Regions from separate parts of the Homo sapiens genome. Here region 1 is linked to region 2. The links come from fine-mapping of genetic effects on gene expression. Tissue or cell type: whole blood. Region 2 holds a variant in brackets; the other region holds the start of a gene. All regions are shown on one strand. Distances are between the middles of the regions.

Region 1 (8,095 bases), 46 kb before region 2:
ATAATTGTCCTTCAAAAGTTTCTAGTTTCCAGGAGGAACACAAATCACAAAAACAATATGTTATATGTGAGACAGCTACTTAAGCTCTCTGAAGGTGGCACAGAACATAAAAGGGGGAAAAATTAGCAGTTACGTGCGAAAGAAGTGTTAAGAGAATGTTTCACTTCAGCACAAGGACCTAGATGCATGAGAATGGTCTGTTTTTGAGAACAAGGAAGAGATCATGATGAGAATATTGGAATAAGTATAGTTAGAGGCAATATTGGGAACCCTGAAATATTTTTTGCCCCAATAGGATGTGATACAAAATAATTGAGAGACTAACAAAGTTCCATCAGAATTAAACAGAGGATTGGCCAAGTCCAGTGGCTCACACCTGTAATCCCAGCACTTTGGGAGGCCAAGATGGGTGGATCACTTGAGGCCAGGAGTTCAAGAGCAGCCTGGCCAACAATGCGAAACACCATCTCTACTAAAAATACAAAAATTAGGCCAGGCGCGGTGGCTCACGCTCGTAATCCCGGCACTTTGGGATGACGAGGCGAGCAGATCATCTGAGGTTGGGAGTTCGACCAACAGGGAGAACCAGCATGACCAACATGGAGAAAACCCATCTTTACTAAAAATACAAAAAATTAGCTGGGCGTGGTGGGTGCACGCCTGTAATCCCAGCTACTTGGGATGCTGAGGCAAGACAATCGCTTGAACCTGAGAGGCAGAGGTTGCGGTGAGCCAAGATCGAGCCCTTGCACTCCAGCCTGGGCAGCAAGAGTGAAACTCCTTCTCAAAAAAAAAAAAAAAAAAAAAAAATTAACCGGGCATGGTGGCGGGCGCCTGTAATCCCAGCTACTCGGGAGGCTGAGACAGGAGAATCGCTTGAACCCAGGAGGCAGAGGTTGCAGTGAGCTGAGATTGCACCATTCATTGCACTCCACCCTGGCAACAGAGTGACACTCCATCTCAAAAAAAAAAAAAAAAAAAAAAAGAAGAAAGAAAAAGCAAGTACTTGGATTGGAAGAGGAATGGGGGATTCTCAAAGTTTCTTTTCATTTTTCTTTTCTTTTTCTTTCTTTCTTTCTTTTTTTTTTTTTTTTTTTTGAGACAGATTTCACCATGTTGGCCAGGCTGGTCTCAAACTCCTAGCCTCAAGTGATCCGCTCACCTCGGCCTCCCAAAGTGCTGGGATTACAGGCGTGAGCCACTGCATTCGGCCCAGATTCTCAAAGTTTTGAATTTGATTTTCCCACAGCCCCAGCCAGTCCTCCTTTTGTCTGGATAAGGAGAAAACTTTTTTCCCTAATAGGAATTGGAGGTTAACATGTTTTAGGCATAAATGTTCTGCATCCCTGACCTTGTCACTCAGAGTGTACTCAAAACTACTGAATGGGTGGTGTAGATAATCCTCTTATGATCAGAGGGTCCCTCTAGCGGTGAGCAGCGACTAGTGCTTATTCTCTAGCTATATGCTCTAATTTATATTCAGATACAAGTAGGGTCTATTAGTGTAAAACTTCTAACTAAAAGAGAAATTAAAATCATAGGATAATAAAGTTGGAAATCGTCATCTGGTCTGATATTTTACCCTTAAGCATGTCAATCTCAGCTATTCTGAGATGTATTCAGAGATGAAGTCTCATTCTTTATTAGTTTTGTTTTTCTTTTTTTGAGACGGAGTTTCACTCTTGTCGCGCAGGTTGGAGTACAATAGCACGATCTCGGCTCACTGCAACCTTTTCCTCCCGGATTCAAGTGATTCTCCTGCCTCAGCCTCCAGAGTAGCTGGGACTATAGGCACCCACCACAATGCCCGGCTAATTTTTGTATCTTTAGTAGGATGGGATTTCACCATGTTGGCCAAGATGTTCTCGATCTCCTGAACTTATGATCCGTCCGCCTCGGCCTCCCAAAGTGCTGAGATTTCCCAGCCTTGGTTTTCTTTTTTAGTCTTGCTCTGTTACCCAGAGCAATCTCAGCTCACTCTAGCCTTGACTTTCTGGGCTCAGGCGACTTTCCTACCTCAGTCTCTCAAGTAGCTGGGACTACAGGCTGGCACCATCACAATCAGCTAATTTTTGTATTTTTTTGTAGCGACGGGGGTATCCAGGCTGGTCTCGGACTCCCAACCTCAAGTGATCTGCCCACCTCGGCCTCTCAGTGCTGGGATTACAGGCGTGAGCCACCGTGCCCAGCTGGCCTTCTTTTTTTCATTATGGGAATTTCCAAACCAAAAGTAGAGTAGTATGGTGAACCACTATGTACACATAACCCAGCCTCAATAATTATCAACATAAATAAGACCAGCGTGGCCGGGTGCAGTGGCTCAAGCCTGTAATCCCAGTTTTCGGAGGCTGAGATGGGAGGCCAGGAGTTAGAGGTTGCAGTGAGCTATGTATGATTGCACCACTGCTGCACTCCAGCCCAGTGAGACCTTGTCTCTTTTGTTTTACTTTGAGACCCTGTCTCAAAAAACAAAACTATTTGTTTCTTCCAGAGGATTAAGTTAAATCCCAAACTTCATATACTTTTTTTATCTATGAATACAACATATAACCCTTAATAAAGCCTACTTTTATAAGGGTGATAACTTTAACACTATTATCATGCCTAAAAAAATTGCTTAATATCAAATATCCAGCTGATGTGATGGCTCACGCCTGTAATCCCAACACTTTGAGACTTTTTTTTTTTCAGAGATGGGGTCTGGCTATGTTGCCTACGCTGGTCTCGAACTCATGCGCTCAAGCCATCCTCCCACATCAAAAAATTAAAAACAAATTAGCTGGGCTTGGTGGCATGCACCTATAGCCCCAGCTACTCAGGAGGCTGAGGCAGGAGGATGGCTTGAACCCGGGAGGTGGAGATTGCAGTGAGCCGAGATCAGGCCACTGCACTCCAATCTGGGCAACAGAGCGACACCCTGTCTCAAACAATAAAACTTTGTAGAGACGGAGTCTGGCTGTGTTGTCCAGGCTGGTCTCAGACTCCTAGCCTGAGTTGATCCTCCTGCCTGGGCCTCCCAAAACGCTGGGATTATAAAACCTAAGCCATTGCATCAGGCCTTGAATGTAATTTTTGATTAACCAAAACGGTTTAGTGGTTTGTTCTTTGGCAGATTAGTTAATATAATTGAGTTGTCAAATCTTTTCCGGGCTCTGTACTGGGCTTAGGGAATTGTAAAGATTAAGACACGTTGCCGGCCAGGTGTGGTGGCTCACGCCTGTAATCCCAGCACTTTGGGAAGCTGAGGTGGGTGGATCATCTGAGGTCAGGAAATCGAGACCAGCCTGGCCAACATGGTGAAACCTCGTCTCTACTAAAAATACAAAATTAGCCGGGCATGGTGGAATGCCCCTGTAGTCCCAGCTACCTGGGAGGCTGAGGCAGGAGAATCCCTGGAACCCAGGAGGTGGAGGTTGCAGTGAGCCGAGATCGAGCCACTGCACTCTAGCCTGGGTGAAAGAGCGAGACTCCTCCGTCTCAAAAAAAAAAAAAAAAAAAAAAAAAAAAAAAAAAAAAAAGGCACGTTGCCCACCCTTAGTTAAACGAGGGAGGAGATAAATATACAAATAAATTCAATTGAAGGGTATAAGGGCTTGTTGAATTAAAATTCTACAGGGAACTGAGGGCTGTAGAAAGTCATTAGCGATCCCGACACTTTTTTTTTTCTTTTTTTGAGACGGAGTCTCACTCTGTCCCCCAGGCTGGAGTGCAGTGGCGCGATCTCGGCTCACTGCAATCTCTGCCTCCCGGGTTCAAGTAATTCTCCTGCCTCAGCCTCCCGAGTAGCGGGGATTACAGGCGTGCGCCACCATGCCCGGCTAATTTTTTGTATTTTTAGTAGAGACAGGGTTTCACCATGCTGGCCAGGCTGGTCTCGAACTCCTGACCTCGTGATCCGCCCGCCTTGGCCTCCCAAAGTGCTGGGCTAACAGGCGTGAGCCACCGCGCTCGGCCGATCCCGACACTTTTTTAAAATGCCGAAGCCGGAATCGACACAGCACTTTCAAAGGTTCCTCCATAGCTCCCCTGAGATCCGGCCAGCGGGAAACCCCAACTGAGAACTGCAATGGCAGGGAAAGTGGAGGCTAGATCCTGTTTTTTGTGTTACCGCGATTCCCTTCAACTACCCTCAAGACGCCTACAAATTTGTTTGGCGGCACCTACAACTCCCAGAACGCAACGTGGGGGACGGAGGCGGAAGCAGCTGGCCAAGCCGAGGTCTGTGATTGGTGAAGAGCGACGGGCCAATTGGAGGAGTTGTTGTTAGGCCGTCCCGGAGACCCGGTCGGGAGGGAGGAAGGTGGCAAGATGGTGTTGGAAAGCACTATGGTGTGGTGAGGAGCTACTTCGGGGCAGGAGGGGCAGAGCTGGGTTCCGGGCGCGTGTAGCGCCAAGGCAGGGAGGGCCTGGGGTGGGGGCCAGGGGCTCATGGGCGAGAGGCGGCCCTGGCCCCGGAGGTAAGGAGCCCGCTGGACTCCCTGAGTCATCCCGGGGCCCTGGAGTGGCGGATAGTCCCGGGTTACCACTGTTACCCCCAGGGGGACGGTCATTGACTGGTCATTCCTGCTTCCTTTCTCTGTTCTAGCGCCGTCTTCTCTAGAGCAGCCCGGGTCTGTCTTTAGCTACAGTTCTGCTTTTCGGACTCATCGTAATAGTTTTCTGCCCTCCTTTCTTTGCAAAATAACGTCTATTAGGAAAATAGATTATTAATCCCTTCCTCTCCCCATTCCCTCGTCTCTAACTTCATTACCTTTCCCTGTATCATCTTCAAAGGTACCATTTACAGATTGCTTTTTATGTATCAGTCATTTTGTTTATCTCACTTATACCTCACAACCACACCTTAAGGTAAATTATCTCTCCATTTTACGGTTCAGGATACCGAGTCTCAGCGATTTTAAGTGATTTGTCCAAAATCATACAGCTAGTTAAGTGGTGGAGTCAAGATTTAAACCCACGGCTGTCTGACACAAAGGCTTTATCCGGTGAGGTAGCTCTCTTTGTCAGTTTCAGGCTTGGGCTGAGTACCTATTACGAGTCACATTAGAAGAGGAGGACATAAATTTTTGCAGGGTTTCAAGAGTTCCTTCTAAGTGTAATCACTGAATGTAATACAGAATAGTTGACGAACACAAATCACCGATTGGGTGAAACAGGCACCTATGAGATTTCTTCTTTTTATTTTCTCGGGGGAGCATAGCATTGCCAGATAACATACAGGATGCCCAGTGAAATTTGAGTTTCAGATAAACGATGAATAATTTTTTTTTGAGACGGTCTCGCTCTGTCTCCCGGACTGGAGTGCAGTGGCCCAGTCTGGCTCACTGCAGCCTCCGCCTCCCTGGTTCAAGTGATTCCCAGTGATTGAACTAATTTACACTTGCACCAACGATAGAACAGTGTTCTCTTTTCTCGCAACCTTGCCAGCATCTGTTATTTTTTTAGTTTTTAGTAATAGCCATTCTGACTGGTGTTAGGTGGTATCTCGTTGTGGTTTTGATTTATTTGCATTTCTCTAATGATCAGTGATATTGAGGTTTTTTTAATAGGCTTGTTGGCTGTATGTATATCGTCTTTTGAAAAGTGTCTGGCTGGGGCGTGGCTCAGGCCTGTAATCCCAGCACTTTGGAAGGCTGAAGTGGGTGTATCACCTGAGGTCAGGAGTTACTGACCAGCCTGGCCAACATGGTGAAACCCCATCTCTACTAAAAATACAAAAATTAGCCAGGCGTGGTGGTGGACGCCTGTAGTCCCAGCTACTCCAGAGGCTGAGGTGGGAGAATCGTTTGAACCCCGGAGGTGGAGGTTGCAGTGAGCCGAGATGGCGCCACTGCACTCTAGCCTGGGCGACAGAGTGAGACTCCCTCTCAAAAAAAAAAAAATAATAATAAAATAAATAAATAAATAAATAAATAAATAAAAATAAAGTGTCTGATGTCTGTTCATGTCCTTTGCCCACTTTTTTTTTTTTTTTTCTCTTTGAGAAGGAGTTTTGCTCTTGTTGCCCAGGTTGGAGTACAGTGGCGCCATCTCAGCTCACTGCAACCTCCGCCTCCCTGGTTCAAGTGATTCTCCTGCCTCAGCCTCCTGAGTAACTGGGATTACAGGTGCCCGCCACCACGCCCAGCTTTTTTGTATTTTTGGTAGAGACGGGGTTTCATCATGTTGGCCAGGCTAGTCTCAAACTGCTGAGCTCAGGTGATCCACCCGCCTCAGCCTCCCAAAGTGCAGGGATTACAGGCGTTGAGCCACTGTGCCCGGCTCCTTTGCCCACTTTTTTTTTTTTTCGCTCTTATTGCCCAGGCTGGAGTGCAATGACACAATCTCAGCTCCCCGCAACCTTCGGCTCACCGCAACCTCCGCCTCCCGTGTTCAAGCGATTCTCCTGCCTCAGCCTCCTTAGTAGCTGGGATTACAGGCATGCGCCACCACGCCCAGCTAATTTTGTGTTTTTAGTAGAGACCAGGTTTCTCCATGTTGGTCAGGCTGGTCTCGAACTCCCACCCTCAGGTGATCCGCCCGCCTCAGCCTCCCAAAGTGCTGGCATTATAGGCGTGAGCCACTGTGCCCGGCCGGTCTTCCAGGATTTTTATAGTTTTGGGTTTTACCTTGTCTTTAATCCATCTTCAGTTAATTTTTGTGTATGGTATAAGAAAGGAGTCCAGCTTCAATCTTCTGCATATGGCTAGCCTAGCCAGTATCCCCAGTTATTGAATAGGGACTCTTTTTCCTCACTGCTTGTTTTGTCAGCTTTGTCAAAGAATAGATGGTCATAGGTGTGCGGCTTTATTTCTAGACTCTCTATTCTGTCCCATTGGTCTCTGTGCCTGTTTTTGTACCAGTGCCATGCGGTTTTGGTTATTGTAGCCCTAAGTAATAGTTTGAAGTTGGGTAAAGTTGCCTCCAGCTTTGTTCTTTTAGCTTAGGATTGCCTTGGCTTTTCTGGCTCTTTGTTGGTTCCATATGAATTTTCAAATAGTTTTTTCTAGTTCTTTGAAGAATGTTTTTGGTAGTTTGATAGGAGTAGCATTGAATCTGTAAATTGCTGTGGGAAGAATGGCCAATTTTAATTAATTAATTAATTAATTTATGAGACAGAGTCTTGCTCTGTCTCCCAGGCTGGAGTGCAGTGGTGTGATCTCGGCTCATTGCAACCTCCGCCTCTCAGGTTCAAGTGATTATTGTGCCTCAGCCTTCTGAGTAGCTGGGATTCCAGGCACCCGCCACCATACCTGGCTTTCTTTTTTTTTTTTTTTTTTTTTTGTATTTTTAGTAAAGATGGGGTTTGGCCATGTGGCCAGGCTGGTCTTGAACTCCTGGCCTCAAGTGATCTGCCCACCTCAGCCTCCCAAAGTGCTGGAATTACAGGTGTGAGCCACCATGCTCGGCAGTATGGCCATTTTAATGATATTGATTCTTCCTATTCATGAGCATGAGATGTTTTTCCACTTGTTTATATCTTCTTTGATTTATTTGAGCGGTATTTTGTAATTCTCATTGTAGAGCTCTTTCATCTCCCTGGTTAGTTGTATTCCTAGGTTTGTTTGTCTATTTGTTTGTTTTTTTGAGATGGAGTCTCGCTTTTGTTGCCCAGGCTGGAGTGCAGTGGCGCCATCTCGGCTCACTGCAACCTCCACCTCCCGGGTTCAAATGATTCTCCTGTCTCAGCCTCCCGAGTAGCTGGGATTACAGGTGCGTGCCACCATGCCCGGGTAATTTTTTTCTGTATTTTTAGTAGAGATGAGGTTTCATCATATTGGTCAGGCTGGTCTCGAACACTTGACCTCAGGTGATCCACCAGCCTCAGCCTCCCAAAGTGCTGAGATTACAGGCATGAGCCACAACACCCAGCCAAGGTATTTTATTCTTTTTGTGGCAGTATGCACATAGTTCTTGGCCCCATGTAGTGCATCATGGGGAACCTGCTGTTGATGTGACTGCCTTGCACATGTGCCATTGTATTACCCTTTTCGAGTGTTTTTTTTTTTTTTTTTTTTTTTGGGGGAGACAGGGTCTCATTCTGTCACCCAGGCTGGAGTGCAGTAGTGTGATCTTGGCTCACTGCAGCCTCGACCTCCGGGGCTCAAGTGATCCT
Region 2 (8,104 bases):
TTTAAATATAAGAATGTCAGGCCATGGCAGAACTTAATAGATGCTAGATTTCTTTTTTTTTTTTTTGAGATGAAGTCTCACTCTGTCACCCAGGCTGGTGTGCAATGGTGCGATCTTGGCTCACTGCAACTTCTGCCTCCTGGGTTCAAGTGATTCTCCTGCCTCAGCCTCCCAAGTAGCTGGGAATACAGGCGCCCGCCACCACACCCAGCTAATTTTTTATTTTTAGTAGAGATGGGGTTTCACCGTGTTGGTCATGCTGGTCTCAAACTCCTGACCTCAGGCGATTTGCCCACCTCGGCCTCCCAAAGTGCTGGGATTACAGGCGTGAGCCACCACACCCAGCCTAAGACTAATTTTTATTTTTTTTTTTGAGATGGAGTCTCAGTGTCACCCAGGCTGGTGTGCAGTCGCGCGATCTCATCTCACTGCAACCTCCACCTCCCGGGTTCCAGCAATTGTCCTGCCTCAGCCTCCTGAGTGGCTGGGATTACAGGCATGCGCCACCACGCCTGGTGAATTTTTGGTATTTTTAGTAGATATGGGGTTTTGCCATGTTGGTCAGGCTGGTCTTGAACTACTGACCTCAGGTGATTCACCTGCCTCAGGCTCCCAAAGTGTTGGGATTACAGGCGTGAGCCACTGCATCCAGCCTAGATGCTACATTTCTAATAAGCTGCTCTGTTAGCTAGCTAGCTAGCTAGTTGTTTTGTTTTGTTTAGACAGGGTCTCACTCTGTTGCCCTTAACCTCCTGCTCAAGTGATCCTCCCACCTCAGCCTCCAAAGTAGCTGGGACCACAGCTGTATACCACCATGCTTGGCTAATTTTTATTTTTTGTAGAGACGGGATCTAACTATGTTGCCTAGGCTAGTCTCGAACTCCTGGGCTCAAGCGATCCTCCTGCCTCGGCCTTGTTGGCTAGATTTTTTTTTTTTTTTTTTGAGACTCGCTTTGTTGCCCAGACTAAAGTACTGTGGCATGATCTTGGCTCACTGCAATCTCCACCTCCTGGGTTCAAGCAATTCTCCTGCCTTACCTCCCGAGTAGCTGGGATTACAGGTGTGCATCACCAAGCCCAGCTAATGTATGTATGTATGTGTATGTATATATATAAATTTTTTTTTTTTTTTGAGTTGGAATTTCACCCTTGTCGTCCAGTCTGGAGTGCAATGGTGCCATCTTGGCCCACTGCAACCTCTGCCTCCCGGGTTCAAGTGATTCTCCTGCTCAGCCTCCCAAATAGCTGGGATTAGGCGCCTGCCACCAGGCCCAGCTAATTTTCTTTTTGTATTTTAGTAGAGATGGGGTTTCACCATGTTGGCCAGGCTGGTTTCAAACTCCTGACCTCAGGTGATCCACCCGTGTCAGCCTCCCAAAGTACTGGGATTATAGGCATGAGCCACCACACCCAGCCATTATTAGCTAGATCTTAATGGGCCACCATGTTACTGGAAGCCCCAGCAGCACTGGCCATTGCATTTCCACCTTTCCAGGACAGCTGCCCTGTGCCGAGGGTCTAGAGCTGGAACTCATAGGAGCATTCAGGGCAGAGACCCTGGGTCACTGTTGGGAGATACTCTTAGAAGGCAGGGCCTAGATGGTGTAATTATTTTTGTACATTATGTGCCTCACCTATATGTGTAGTTAGTTTTCATCAAGGTCATGTCATATTGAAAAAAAATGACAGCTCTGGGCAAAACAACAGATACTTAAAAGCTGTGGAAATCATATGCTGGAATAAGAAGTGAGGAGAGTTCATGGCTGAGAGTTTCCACTTCATCTCCATCATGTTTCTCCTTTCTGCTCTCAGTCACTAACCACTACCCTTAGTGCCAGGCCCTATTATCTCTTGCTTTGTTGCTAAACACCCAATTACATCCACCTTCACCCACAGTGCCACAGGGCATTTAATCAACACAGACTGGATCATGTCATTCCTCTGCCTGCAAAATAAAACACCTAAGCTTCACAATGAAGGCCCTTCTTCAACTGGCCTCAATTTACCTGCCTCATGGTACCACCTCCTACTCCACTGCCATGCAGTGCAGTCTGTGCTTTAATCACATTCAATTATTTCTTCTAGCTGGGATGTACCTCCCCTGCAGCTTCCTCTGTCATCATTTTCCCTTGTCCTTGAAGACCCTGCTCACTCAAACCCTTAGTCCTCCCATAAATCCTTCATTTCTTTGCCCTTTTACCCTAGTTCTTATTAGTCTGCCTCCTGACTTAATGTCATGGGAACACATCTGTCTCTGCTTAAAATACATTGTTTCATTTTTCACATCTTTGCCATGGAGGGCAGTAATAAGTAATTGAGAACTACACACGAAGGGACAGAGAGAACCCTGGAGAAATGTTAGGATGAGCAGCAGAAGTCACCTACCTGTCCTTGACTTGCAGCAGGTAGCAGACCAAGCAGTACCCAGCACAACTTTGCACAAAATTGCGCTGTGCACTGAGGAATGCCTCAGTGGTGTAACTGCCGTGCTCCTGTAGGAAGTAATCGAGCAAGGAGAGCTGTGACTGTTTCTTCACCTGATGGATGGACACAGCATTGACCACTGGTTCAATCATGCCACTATCAGCCGAAATCACAAGAATCTTGTATGGCTTGATCCAAAGGGGCACTCGCTCCTGTTCCCAAATGGACTGTGAGGAGACATGGAGGATACAGGACTCTTATCTTTCTCCAAACTAGAGAAGAAGGCTAAAACTCTTCCCTTTCTCCAGCCTCTCTCCTTGGTAGCATTGAATTCTAAGCCATCAAATGAGTAAGACTCACTTAACCCAGTGAGGACCAGGGAGTTTGGAAAGGAAGTCTAGGGCCTGACAAAGTCAGAAACTACACTCAGGTATGTGGGAAAAGGTATCACCTAAGTAGAAAGCCCAAGACAGGCAGGGAGAACAGGAAACTTCACTATCCCCTCTCAAGCAGGGAGAATGGGAGCTGTAAGTTCAAATAATAAGAAAAAAGAGGCCAGGTGCGGTGGCTTATGCTTGTAATCCCAGCACTCTGGGAGACCAAGGAGGGCGGATCACCTGAGGTCAGGAGTTCAAGACCAGCCTGGCCAACCTCAGTAGAGAGTGAAACCTCGTCTTTACTAAAAATACAGAAATTAGCCAGGCGTGGTGGTGTATGCCTGTAATCCCAGTTACTCAGGAGGCTAAGGCAGGAGAATCGCTTGAACCCAGGAGGTGGAGGTTGCAGTGAGCCAAGATTGCACCACTGCACTCCAGCCTGGGCGACAGAGCGAGACTCTCTCCGACGAAAAAAAAGAAAAAAGGAAAGGATTTAGGTCCAGAGAAGACTTCTCTGGAAAATGAAAATATTTATATGGTATAAAGAACAGTATTAAACAATTAAGTGGCTTGCAGGTGACCAACCCAGGGGTATCAGAAGATCAATATTTCAGCACACTATAACCTACCTGCTACAGACCAATTTGGGAAGTTTTTATGTTGTTTTTTAAAGGGGGGAGGACCAAATTATTATTATTTAAAAATTTGATTACAACCAATTGTGTTGGCATTAAAATTAGAGGCATTAAGTTTGAATAATGGATATATGCCAAAAACCAAAAATTGAGTTTGGCAAAAACGGGCAAGGAAGTTTTCCAGTAATTTCAGATTAGAAATCAATTTAGAGAAATGAACCCCATGTTTACAATGATTGTGCCACAGATTTAAACTTCAGTAGTGCATTAGTAAACTGTTCACATTTAGATCTTCACCTTGAGATTTGACAGCTATTTCTTGAAAAAATCTCAGTGCCTTGTATAAATAAATTGGTCTTCCATGTGCCTTAGCACACACTTAACACTAGGAAAAGGTGGGTCACTAAACTTTGCCTCCGCAAAATTTTCTTTTTGGCTCACTTCAGTTAGAAATGCTGATTTCTTCAGCCAGGAGCGGTGGCTCATGCCTGTAATTCCAGCACTTTGGGAGGTGGAGGTGGGCGGATCACCTGAGGTCGGGAGTTCGAGACCAGCCTGGCTCACATGGAGAAACCCTATCTCTACTAAAAATACAAAATTAGCCGGGCGTGGTGGCGCATGCCTATAATCCCAGCTACTTGGGAAGGCTGAGGCAGGAGAATCGCTTGAACCTGGGAGGCGGAGGTTGTGGTGAGCCGAGATTGCGCCATTGCACTCCAGCCTGGGAAACAAGAGCAGAACTCCATCTCAAAAAAAATAAAATAAGGAAAAAAAAACGCTGATTTCTTCAAATGCATATTTTTCTCAGAGACAGGGTCTTGCTATGTTGCTCAGGCTGGAGTGCAGTGGCTATTCACAGTCTCGATCCTGTTACTGATGAGCACGGGAGTTCTGACCTGCTCCATTTCCGACCTGGGCCAGTTCACCCCTCCCTTAGGCAACCTGATGGTCCCCTATTCCTAGGAGGTCACCATATTGATGCCGAACTTAGCGCGGACACCCAATTGGCATAGTGGACTGCAGCCCAGAACTCCTGGGCTCAAGACATCCTCCCACCTCAGCCTCCTGACTAGCTGAGACTACAGGCCCATGCCAGGGTGCCAGGACATTTTGGAAGTTTTGATCTAAAAGGCAAACCTAGCACTCTAAAGTTCAGACTTGGAACAGGACAGGTGCAGGTCACAAAAGGGCCAAAAGAGGCCGCTGTGGAGCTGTTCCTATGGCTGTTCTTCCCAGGGGAAAGTTGCACTAGCTTCTCTTTACTCTGCTTTTGTTTTAGACCTTGGCAGGAAGGTGGTCCCCGGCAGAATAATCTGTGTAGTCACCTCCGGTTGGCTGGAGTTGGGCTGAGTTTCCCTTTCTCTCCTTTTTTTTTGAGACAGAGTCTTGCT[C/G]TGTCGCCCAGGCTAGACTGCAGTGGCACAATCTCAGCTCACTGCAACCTCTGCCTCCTGGGTTCAAGCTATTCTCCTGCCTCAGCCTCCCAAGTAGCTGGGATTACAGGTGCCCATCACTGCACCCAGCTAATTTTTGTATTTTTATTTTTATTTTTTTTTTTTTGAGACGGAGTCTCGTTCTGTCGCCCAGGCTGGAGTGCAGTGGTGCAATCTCCGCTCACTGCAAGCTCCGCCTCCCGGGCTCACGCCATTCTCCTGCCTCAGCCTCCGGAGTAGCTGGGACTACAGGCGCCCGCCACCACACCCGGCTAATTTTTTGTATTTTTAGTGGAGACAGGGTTTCACCGTGTTAGCCAGGATGGTCTCGATCTCCTGACCTCGTGATCCACCCGCCTCGGCCTCCCAAAGTGCTGGGATTACAGGCATGAACCACCACACCCGGCCATAATTTTTGTATTTTTAGTAGAGACAGGGTTTCACCATCTTGGCCAGGCTGATCTTGAACTCCCGACTTTGTAATCCACCCGCCTCGGCCTCCCAGAGTGCTGGGATTACAGCCACTGTGCCTGGCCTCTCCTTCTCTTCTCTTACCTGCAGTTGCTTCAACACCTGAAAGGCCAGAAGCTCTTGCCGAAGGTCATCCCCACACTTGACAATGACTGACAGGAGCCGCCAATTGGGGAGATGGCCGTAGGGGGAGCCCTCTCTGATCCGCCTGTGAAGACAGAAGTAAAGGGTGTCAAAGGTTGATGCCAGGGTGAGGACAAGAGACATGGCTTCCACAAAAAATCCCAAGCAAACGCCCCATAGGGCAAGGACCCAGACAGCCTGGAAGCCTGACAGATTTTTTTGGAGGCTGATGGACAATAAAGTTGGTGCAGTGAGCACTTACAACTGCCTCTGAGCTTTGAGAGGGGTTCAGAGACCCACACCCAACTCACCGTACTTTCTCCTGCCAGGGCTCTTTGAGAGCAACTGCAGAAGGATCTTCTGGGTCTCGTTTGAAGGCTGTCGGGGTATGAGCCAGCTGTTCCGAAAGGCGCCGGCTGGCAGGAAGAAAATACATCATTTGCTTGGAGAAGCTACCCCCAAGCCCCATGCCCAGTCTATACTGACATTTCCTGCACTGTCTCCTGGATTCTGGACACACAAAGATAGGAACCCAGGCTGAAAGGGACTCATGGAAGAAAACATAACCAATGACACCTTTTTGCTAACTGATTGTAATCATGTTAAAATTAAGATTACCAGGCCCTCCATATTCCTCTACCAAGGCTGATTCAGAATGGGTGTGTCTCTAGAATTTGCATTTTTCTTTTCTTTTCTTTTTTTTTTTTTTTTTGAGATAAGAATCTCGCTGTGTCTCCCAGGCTGGAGTGCAGTGGCGAGATCTCGGCTCACTGCAAGCTCCGCCTCCTGGGTCCACGCCATTCTCCTGCCTCAGCCTCCCGAGTAGCTGGGACTACAGGCGCCCACCACCACGCCCAGCTAATTTTTTTTTTGTATTTTTTTGGTAGAGATGGGGTTTCATCGTGTTAGCCAGGATGGTCTCGATCTCCTGACCTTATGATCTACCCGCCTCAGCCTCCCAAAGTGTTGGGATTACAGGCGTGAGCCACCGCACCCAGCCTAGAATCTGCATTTTCAACAAGTCCTCCTTCCTCCCCCTGGATTCTGACACAGTCGCTTTGAGACCCCACCTTGAGACACACTGCTCAAACTCCTTCCTCTGGTGCTTTCTTGTTTTTTTTTTTTTTTTTTTTTGAGACGGAGTCTCGTTCTGTCGCCCAGGCTGGAGTGCAGTGGTGCGATCTCGGCTCACTGCAAGCTCCGCCTCCCGGGTTCACGTCATTCTCCTGCCTCAGCCTCCCAAGTAGCTGGGACTACAGGCATCCGCCACCACGCCTGGCTAATTTTTTTGTATTTTTAATAGAGACGGAGTTTCACCGTGTTAGCCAGGATGGTCTCGATCTCCTGACCTCGTGATCTGCCCGCCTCGGCCTCCCAAAGTGATGGGGTTACAGGTGTGAGCCACTATGCCCGGCCCCTCTGGTGCTTTCATCCCTTTGGAGTCTTTTTAAAATTTAATTTCCTTCTTTGGTAGCCCAAGTAATTTCTCAACCTACACCTTCATTGCCTCAAGTTTGGTGGCCCCAAACAAGGACAGAATGAAAGAGGGAAAGACACAGGCCAACAACAGATGATTGAGATGGAGAGGAAGGTAACAAAGAGATGGGAAGTTCCTGAAAGAGGGATGAAAAATGAGGGGCAATGTGATCTGGCCATACCGGATGTCCCCTGCTGCAATGAACACAGGCTCCTTGCTCTCCTGGCTGGTGATGCTGTCCACAGAGAACTGGGAGATGTTGTCACAGCTGTTGGTATGCACTTCGGGGAGCTGGAGAAAGGGGAGTGCTGGTCAGAAGTGCTAAAGTATAGGTCTCCCGTCTTTCCCCTCCTGCTTGCTTGCTATCACTGCAGCATGCTCATCCCTCTCTTTCAAACTCTGCTTACACACCATGTTGGTTACTGGGACCCCAGGCTGCCCAGAGCAGCATTTCTCAACATGTGAACTACCTGCAGTAGAATTACCCAGAATGCAGATTCCCAGGCCCCACCATCAATCTGAATTATAATTACTAGGAATGGGATCTGAAAGTCTGAATTTTTAACAAGTTCTCCAGAAGACTTCCAATGCACTAAAGTTTGCAAACCACTGCCATGACCATTACAGGAGCTCAAAATTTCAGCCTCACTGAGAGTCCCCCAAGGATAGGGATGCGTTCTCCCCTAGGGTCCAAAGCAGACTCTTTGCAGACTAGCTTCTGACAGTTTCTTCAATCTAAGTCATTCAATCTTATCTTCTCATCTCTCTCTAAATACAGAATATTCTACCAGACCCCAAGGCCCATGTCAAGTCTCTTCTGTCCTTCATACCAGAGCATTTCTTCTCAACTCCATTTGTCACCTAGTACACACTGCTTTGTTGTATATCTAAATTTTTTTTTCTTAAATGTCTAATTTCTGCAATTGGACTATAAGCTCAAAGACAGAGATTCTGCCTTTTGGCAAAGTGAAACCTGGCTGTGTGTTTTTTTTTTTTTTTTTTAGACGGAGTTTCGCTCTTGTTGCCCACGCTGGAGTGCAATGGTGTGATCTCGGCTCACTGCGACCTCCGCCTCCCAGGTTCAAGCGATTCTCCTGCCTCAGCCTTCTGAGTAGCTGGGATTACAGGCGCGCGCCACCATGCCTGGCTAATTTTTTGTATTTTTAG

The links. PIP is the estimated chance that this variant, and not a neighbour inherited with it, causes the effect.
Region 1: PSMD4 starts here. The variant in region 2 is fine-mapped to the expression of PSMD4 in whole blood (TOPMed, PIP above 0.99).

What each region holds. Positions count from the first base shown.
Region 1 is chr1:151,250,475-151,258,569 of GRCh38, forward strand. PSMD4 (proteasome 26S subunit ubiquitin receptor, non-ATPase 4) reads left to right here and starts at 4,260. Exons shown (of 10, transcript NM_002810.4): 1 at 4,260-4,334. The coding sequence starts at 4,309. RefSeq lists an enhancer at 4,152-4,341 and a silencer at 4,382-4,521.
Region 2 is chr1:151,296,423-151,304,526 of GRCh38, forward strand. It overlaps PI4KB (phosphatidylinositol 4-kinase beta), which reads right to left. Exons shown (of 12, transcript NM_001369623.2): 6 at 7,119-7,228; 7 at 5,772-5,876; 8 at 5,422-5,545; 9 at 2,386-2,651. It also overlaps the pseudogene RN7SL444P. Among named protein-coding and RNA genes, the nearest start is that of ZNF687, 18 kb to the left of the region's middle. RefSeq lists an enhancer at 1-83. The variant C/G (reference allele first, on the strand shown) is at 4,828.